Linked DNA regions of Homo sapiens. The gene in region 1 interacts genetically with each later gene. Each region holds a gene or a part of one and is shown on either strand. Other genes may lie near its edges.

Region 1 (3,830 bases):
TAAATTGAAAAGTGCGTTTTTATCAGAGACCTAAAATATAAAGTAGAAATGGAAAATTATATTCACAAACATAAACATATCCAAATGAAGAACTCTCATTTGCTATTCTATATATTGTTATTTAAATATACTTAGGAAAAAATTGTGAAAAGAACAGACATTTGTAATGATTTCAAACTACTCTAATAGTGTGTTCTCACTTGGAATGTCACACAAAAGAGTGAATTCATTGGTATTACAGGAAGATATGTACTACAAAAAAAACTACAGAAGTCAACATTCTATCTTTTAAAGTAAATACATTTGTATTTTGTATTGTATACAGTAAAATATTTGTATTTTATGAAATAAAAAATTTAATATTAATGTTTTTGTTTTATTACAAAAACCCTCTAAAATTTACTATGAATATTTTATACAAACACAAATGACACCATGCTACCAGTTACTTCCAGGAAACTATTAGAAAAGTTCTTGTTAATGTCACAGTTCATGTATTTACTGACTTGAATTAGAGAGCATTTTTGATATATACACACTGAAAGCTATCACAAACCTAAATAACAATACAATAGTGACCCAAATTAGATCACATCAATTTGTGAGCAACAAATAAGTCTTACTGTGAGATAAATTCAAAATAGTAACAGATTTCTGTTAAGTATATATATAGATACATAGAAAAAATTAGCCCATAATAACCACATTTTTAAAAGATATCTACTTCTATTCATCAGATTATTATTATTATTATTATTACTAGTGTGTGTGTGTATGTGTGTGTGTGTGTGATATGGAGTCTTGCTCTGTCGCCTAGGCTGGAGTGCAGTGGTGTGATCTCAGCTCACTGCAACTTCCACCTCCTGGGCTCAAGCAATTCTCATGTCTCAGCCTCCCAAGTAGCTGAGGATACAGGTGCGCGCCACCACGCCCAGCTAATTTTTGCATTTTTAGTAGAGACGGGGTTTTGCCATGTTGGTCAGGCTGGTCTCCAATTCCTGACCTCAGGTGATCCACCTGCCTCGGCCTCCCAAGGTGTTGGGATTACAGGCATGAGCCACCACGCCTGGCCTATTCATCAGATTCTTGATGATTAGCAACAAACAGATAAAATACCAGACTAACCTTTCTCATCAAAAAAGTAAAACTTTCAGCAGCAAAATTTCTTATATGTAGTTTTTTATGAGCCAGGAGTGTGCTGTACATGCTATACATGAAAAAAATAAGATACATTTCATTAATCATATAATTGTAATAAATACATACTACATGTCAACAATATGGGCAACAATGTGCTGGGTATGCAAGGAATACACAGCAGGTATCAAACAAATTTAAAATCTCATTCATTTATGGAGACACCCACATGTTGAAAGGAAGACTTGACCACAGACATGAAGAGTCCTAGGACTGGTGGTACTGGTTTTACAAACAAGACTCCAGGAAAAGTTGAAATTTGTAATGAGCTCTGAATGAAAGAAGAATTAGGTGGGGACTGCAGTCCATATTATTGGTATAAAAGCAAGAGCAAAGATGAGGCAGGTGGAAATGATCATGGTCATGACAAGGAGGCTGGTCCATCTAAAAGAGGAAAGATGATACAGTAGAGGAGAGCAGCTATGGATAAAGTTGGTCAGGTAGACAGGTCTAGCTTACATCTGTATAAGCACTTACTCTGTGTTACGCCATTTAATCAGCACAATAACTCTATGGGATGGGTACTATTATAATCCTCCCATTCTACAGATAATGAAAGTGAGGCAGAAAGCATAAGCAACTTGCTCAAGGTCAAGCAGCCATGCATCTATAACTAAATAATTACTTATATATAATCACATTGTTAAATTTGGTCTCCCTAATGATAGAAGGGTATGGAATATATCTCTCCAATTTTCTCATAACCCCAGTACCTAATAGTTCCTTGCTGACAGCAGGTACTAATAAATGTTGGCTGAATGAGAAATGACCATTTTCAGAAAGACTAATTTGGCAGCAATATACAGGATAAAATAAAGGAGGAAAGAAGAGTCTGCTAATTCAGTCAGAAAGGTGCTCAAGTCATACAAGCTTGGGCTAACAGGCATGAAAGAGACTGGAAGGAGAGGCAAAATGGCAAGGGATGAACCCAGTAGACATTTCAGGAGTGCCCACAATGAAGCTGAAGACCTTACAGCGGTCCACAGGGCCCTGGATGATCTGGCGCCTTACTACTGCTTCTCTGACATCACTTAGCTAGTCTCACCCTTATACAGGCTGCTCGGCCACCTAAAACTTCTCCCGGGCATGTGCCCAAGACATTCTCCCCCTGCTAAAATGTAAACTTTGTGAGAAGAGCATTTTTTATCTGTTTTATCTGTGACTGTATCTCAAGTGCCTGACATACAGACAGTGTCCAATAAATATTGACTGAGCAAATGCATGAATGACAGAATCAAGAGGATGTGGACACCTCTGAAGACAACTGGGTTAGTGATGCCTCTGATATTCCAAAACTCAGAGACAGGAAGAACGTTAGTATTAATGACAGAAAATGGGCAACCAAACAGGGCCTGGCATACGGCAGACACTCAATACCTATTTACTGAACACTTGAATGAATGTACAGATAAGAGGAGTTGATTTAACAGGAAAGTGTTGAGTTCAGTTTCAGTAATACAAGTGAAAATAGCCAGGCTACTGAAGTTGTCACACCGAAAGCAAATAAATTTAGAACTGAAGAGCCTGACTTAGGAGACATAAAAGTGGCAGCTTTTATGACAGCTGAAGTCATAAAACTAAATCAATTATTCCCCAAAGACCTTGTTGGTTGTTTAATGAAATAATATTGGTTTCTAACATATTTGACCAAAAGCTTCATAGGGAACTAGTAAAGGCTGGAAAAAGATTTCTTTCTCTTTCTTCATTCAAAGTTCCTAAAAGAGAACGGTGGGCTGAGTGAAACGGGTGGCATAAAACAAAGTCTATTGTCCCATACCATGCATACACCATTTACTGTGGGGTAAGGGGCTGATGACTGATATTAAACACTCCTGTGGCAATTATAGAACATGAAAACAACCGGAAGACCAAGTGGAAAATCCCACCAAACCCCAGACTTAAACAGATAATAAGACAATTTATGCTTACTTTAAACAAAAGGTTACTACAAAATTCATTCTCTTTCCTTGTCCACATTTACTCACAAATACTGAGTGTCTCTTTCACCTTAGTAAGTATTAGTGGCTGGGGAAATGTCAGTGTTTAAAACAGGGCTCTTAACCTGTCTTAAACCTCCCTTATACCAGGTGTAGAGAGGACAGCAATACATTATAACCAAACAATTCTGGTAAAAGTTGTGTGACATAGGTGGTTAAAAAATGCCAAGAGGATAGAGAGTACAAAATTTTATTAATACTTCTGGCAAAGGTGCCTGTTTGTGGAGGCTGTAGGGACCGAGTCAGGCCTTCTTGGGTGGGTATACTTCCAGTAGCTGGAGAGGAGAGATGGTCATGGCAACTCAGACTGGCAGACTAGATTGTGGACCACTTTGGCTGGAGAATCAACTTTGTACATGGAAACAATTAGGCACTGAGCTGGCAAAGTGGTTTGGAGTCATAAAGAAGCCAGGGAAAAAGAAGCAGGCAATTAAAAAACATACTAGAGAGAGAAAGGGGTTACCTGTATATACTGGACATGTCCTTCACCATCAGTCTCCACAGGTACTTATAAAGATATGATAACGAGGTGAAAGCCCATTCTAACAACTCTGTGTCCTGAGTCTCCAGGATCGAGGTGATAGTCAAAAAAAACTCTGGAAAGTGTGGGTAGAAATCCATCTGCAGATCTCGTGC
Region 2 (3,830 bases), on another chromosome or scaffold:
TATGTTCCCTTAAGAGGAGGTTATGTGACCAGGGCTCAGGTATTGAAAAATACAAAATAGAGCAGTTACCCTCATTTAATGAGCTATATTTAGTACACACAGTGCAGCTCCGTGTTCTCTGAATATCCTGAGAGTTTTGGTTTTTATCTCTATGGCTAGATCATTTTGAAATTGCAGACTTTGGGTAATTTTTCTCTCAAACACATGCTATTATAGTTTTACCGTATAGTCATGCTGCATAATGACATTTCGGTCAAGAACAGACCACATGTACAGTGTTCCCATGAGATTATAATACTGTATTTTTGCTGTACATTTTCTTTGTTTAGATATGCTTAGATACACAAATACTTACAAATTTTACACAAATTTTGTTACAATTGCCTGCAATTAATACAGTAACATGCTGTACAGGTTTGCAGCCTAGGAGCAAGCAACTATGTCTATAGCCTACGTATGTAGGAGGCCATACCATTTGGGTTTGTGTAAGCACAGTCTATGATGTTTGTACAATGACAGAATAGCCCAATGACGTGTTTCTCAGAAGGTATTCCTGCCGTTAAGTGATGCATGACTGTATATGGTAAATCTTTTATATAATCAACTATTGATTATCTATCTCAAGATTGACAATACAATAGAAATCTTCTATTTTTAAACTAATAAACACAAATTTATGTTACTTAATAGCAAAATTATTTTGGTTGCAAGTGACAGAAAACCCAACCCATTGGGTGAAGCAAAGAAGGGACTTTTTGGGGCCATGTAATTGAAAAATCTGAGATAGAACTAGTTTCAGATATGGTTGGTGTAAATAATGTAGTCAGAATGTGGTTTCTCTGTATCTCATGGTCTTGCTTTCCTCTGAGTTGCAGAGCCAACTTCGTTTAATTACATGATGGCTGCCAGGTTTTTTTTTTTTTTTTTTTTGTGGTCTGTCTGGCTCAAACCTAGTGGAGAAGAGAACAGCCACCTTTCCCAACCCCCCAAAACCAAATCCTGAATTTCATCCCATTGGCTGTGATGTAGATCATTTGTCCTCCAGAGTCTCTGGGGCCGGCAGTACTGATGGGCAGGATCAGAGATCTGTGTCTATCCCTGGAGCTGTAATCATTTGTCCTCCAGAGTCTCTGGGGCCGGCAGTACTGATGGGCAGGATCAGAGATCTGTGTCTATCCCTGGAGCTGTAATTAGTGTAACAGTAGCCAATGCTCCTCTAAGGAACCATTCCCTTCTCAATCAGGAGAATTGAGGAGCAATTGTTCCTTAGAGGAGCAATGACTACTGCTCCAAAAGAAGGAAGAATGGATGTTTGATGTGAAACAGTGGCAATGACAACAGTCATTACATATATCTTTCTCAGTTTAAGCCAATGTTAAATTTACATTTTTCTAAATACGAAGGTTTCAATGGTAGAAGACCATTACAGGATCTGCTTTGTGGTCAGATAGTGTAGAGCTGGAATTTAAAACAGTAATTCCATCTACAAAATGGATATCCTTAATGAAATAATTAAAAATGACAGTATTGGATATCTGATGGCCTACTTTCCAGGCAGGAATGATATTAAAAATATTTAGCAACCTGTGACAGAGGCATCAACCAATCAGAATGAGTTGGATCTAACCAATCAACAACTAACCAGTGCAGCCCCCTGAGTGAGAGCTGGCTGTTTGTCAGCACAACTTACTGGGAGGCATTCTTAAGGTGCTGTCAAGTGTCTTAAAAAATAGAGTTACTGTATTAGTTTCCTAGGAATGTTATAACAAGGAACCACAAACTGGGTGACTTAAAGTAACAGAAATTTATTCTCTCACAGTTCTGGAGGTTAGAAGTCTGAAATCAAGATGTTGGCAGGGTCCTGCTCCCACCAGAGGCTTTAGGGAAGGACCATTCCTTACTGCTTCTAGCTTCCAGTGGCTGATGGCAATCTTTAGCTCCTAGATGCACCGCTCCAGTCTTCATCTTCACATGGCTTTCTTCCCTGTTTGTGTCACTGCATCCAAATTTCCCTCTTCTTATAGGAAGATTAACCCCTTAGTCCTTATTATTTTAATTCTATTAAAATGTAAATGTTGGTATGACAATGTGGTGGGGAATTAATATTTATTGGCATGTATGTTTGTTCTTGGGGAGGTATTATATTCTTACACATGACTTTATTGAATTCAAAAAAGTGTTACCTTAAAAAAATGGAACTGGCCACAATTAGATGAACATCATTCATTAGTGTATTTAAGAGCAAGTACAAGAAACAGGAGACAAATACTGGTAAAGGGCTCAGAAACCATATTTTGTAAGGAGTATTTGCAAATGGTGGTCATTTCTTCAGCGCTTGGAAGAACAGCTGTGTGGAAAAGGGATTAGACTTCAGAGGGCAGAACTAAGTAAGTTAAAGGATGTGAAATACAGGACAAAACTTTCTTAATGTACAATGCACTAAAATGGAAATGACCGCTGTGTAAGGGAGTAACAAGGGCCAGTTCCTGGAGGTACTCAGGCAGTTGCTGAGATGCATAAGTACCTTTCTGGGACATTTTCATAGAGATCTTGCCTTGAGAAAGAAATTGAAATGGAAGCTTTCTTGCAGCTTCAAGATCTATTTCAAGTCCTAAAATTGTTCTCTATGTGTATGCCATGAAAATCAATATTAATTATGTGACAAGCTATTTCTATAAGCTTAAGTTTTGTTCTGTGATCTTGGTGCTATGGACTAGTCAGGAAAAAAGGGAAAGGTTTAATCTAGGAGGGTGGAAACATCATTAATAAATAAGAGAGGTAGGAGAATAAAACTTGCATTTATTGAGTACTTACTACGTACAGGGTGTTGGACTAGTCTCTTTATCCATATAGTCTCATTTAGTACATTTAGTTTTTCACTGATCAGTTTGGAACTTATGGGAAGTGGTTCTTAAAATGATGAATTCTTAAAATAATTGGCATTTTCTTATATATTTTTTGGTGATGAAACACAGGACTGTTCTGATGGCTACATGTGCAAAATACACTTTCAAATTAAGAATGGGTCTGTGATGTCACATCTAGGAGCATCTACCCATGGACAGACATGTCTTCCCATGGAGGTGAGTAGTTTAATGCATCATGTTCTTTTCAGTCTCCGTAAAGTATACATTTAAAAATGTATACTTTAATGACTCCATCGCATTCCATCCTATGGAAGCACCACAATTATATGGCACTCATATTGAAATAAAATACTTTAATTCTGTTAAGTAAATATTTTAAAAACTTCAAACTTCTTCCCACTGGAGAGAGATCCAATTGCCATTGGATCCTGGGCCTGTTGTAGGGGGAGAAGGAGGTATTTTCCTTTGTAATACTGAAAGCAAGAATTGTGGTAAAGTTATATAAGATCCACTCTGACTCCAGATTGTAGTGAGCCGTCATACTTTTGGTTTCTCTTGGACCTGAATACCACAGATGCCTTCTGTTGTCTATTGATTTTTTTTTCCAAGTAAAATTCCCTGAATATAGCCCTAGCCCCAGGCTGCTTAATACTTGATTGGAGACCTCTTTGCCTGCTCTGCCTTTAGCCCCTTTTCCCTTGAAAATATGCTGGATCTGGGTCTTATTCCTTAGGGGACTTTAACCTTGACTTGAAAATCTTGCTGAACCAAATTTTATTATGGTACTAATGACTGAGTGGTTTTCTGAGATATTTTCATTTTTCTTTTTATCGAAATGCAAATAGCCTTATTGTATTTCTTGTGAAAAAAATTGTATATACCCATTGTAAAAATAAATAATAGAGAAATATATAAAAAGGATTTAAAAATATCCCATATGTCCTTCAGTAGTTTACCACTGGT

The links.
Region 2: of UTP20 (region 1) and ATG10, changing one suppresses a phenotype caused by changing the other (phenotypic suppression), as found in Homo sapiens cells (one large-scale study listed by BioGRID).

What each region holds. Positions count from the first base shown.
Region 1 is NC_000012.12:101,286,337-101,290,166, reverse strand, and holds part of UTP20 (small subunit processome component 20 homolog), read right to left. Parts: coding exon 3,658-3,830; intron 1,208-3,657; coding exon 1,126-1,207; intron 31-1,125; coding exon 1-30. UniProt on the Homo sapiens protein: Part of the small subunit (SSU) processome, first precursor of the small eukaryotic ribosomal subunit.
Region 2 is NC_000005.10:82,055,520-82,059,349, forward strand, and holds part of ATG10 (ubiquitin-like-conjugating enzyme ATG10), read left to right. Parts: intron 1-2,975; coding exon 2,976-3,083; intron 3,084-3,830. UniProt on the Homo sapiens protein: E2-like enzyme involved in autophagy. Acts as an E2-like enzyme that catalyzes the conjugation of ATG12 to ATG5. ATG12 conjugation to ATG5 is required for autophagy. Likely serves as an ATG5-recognition molecule. Not involved in ATG12 conjugation to ATG3.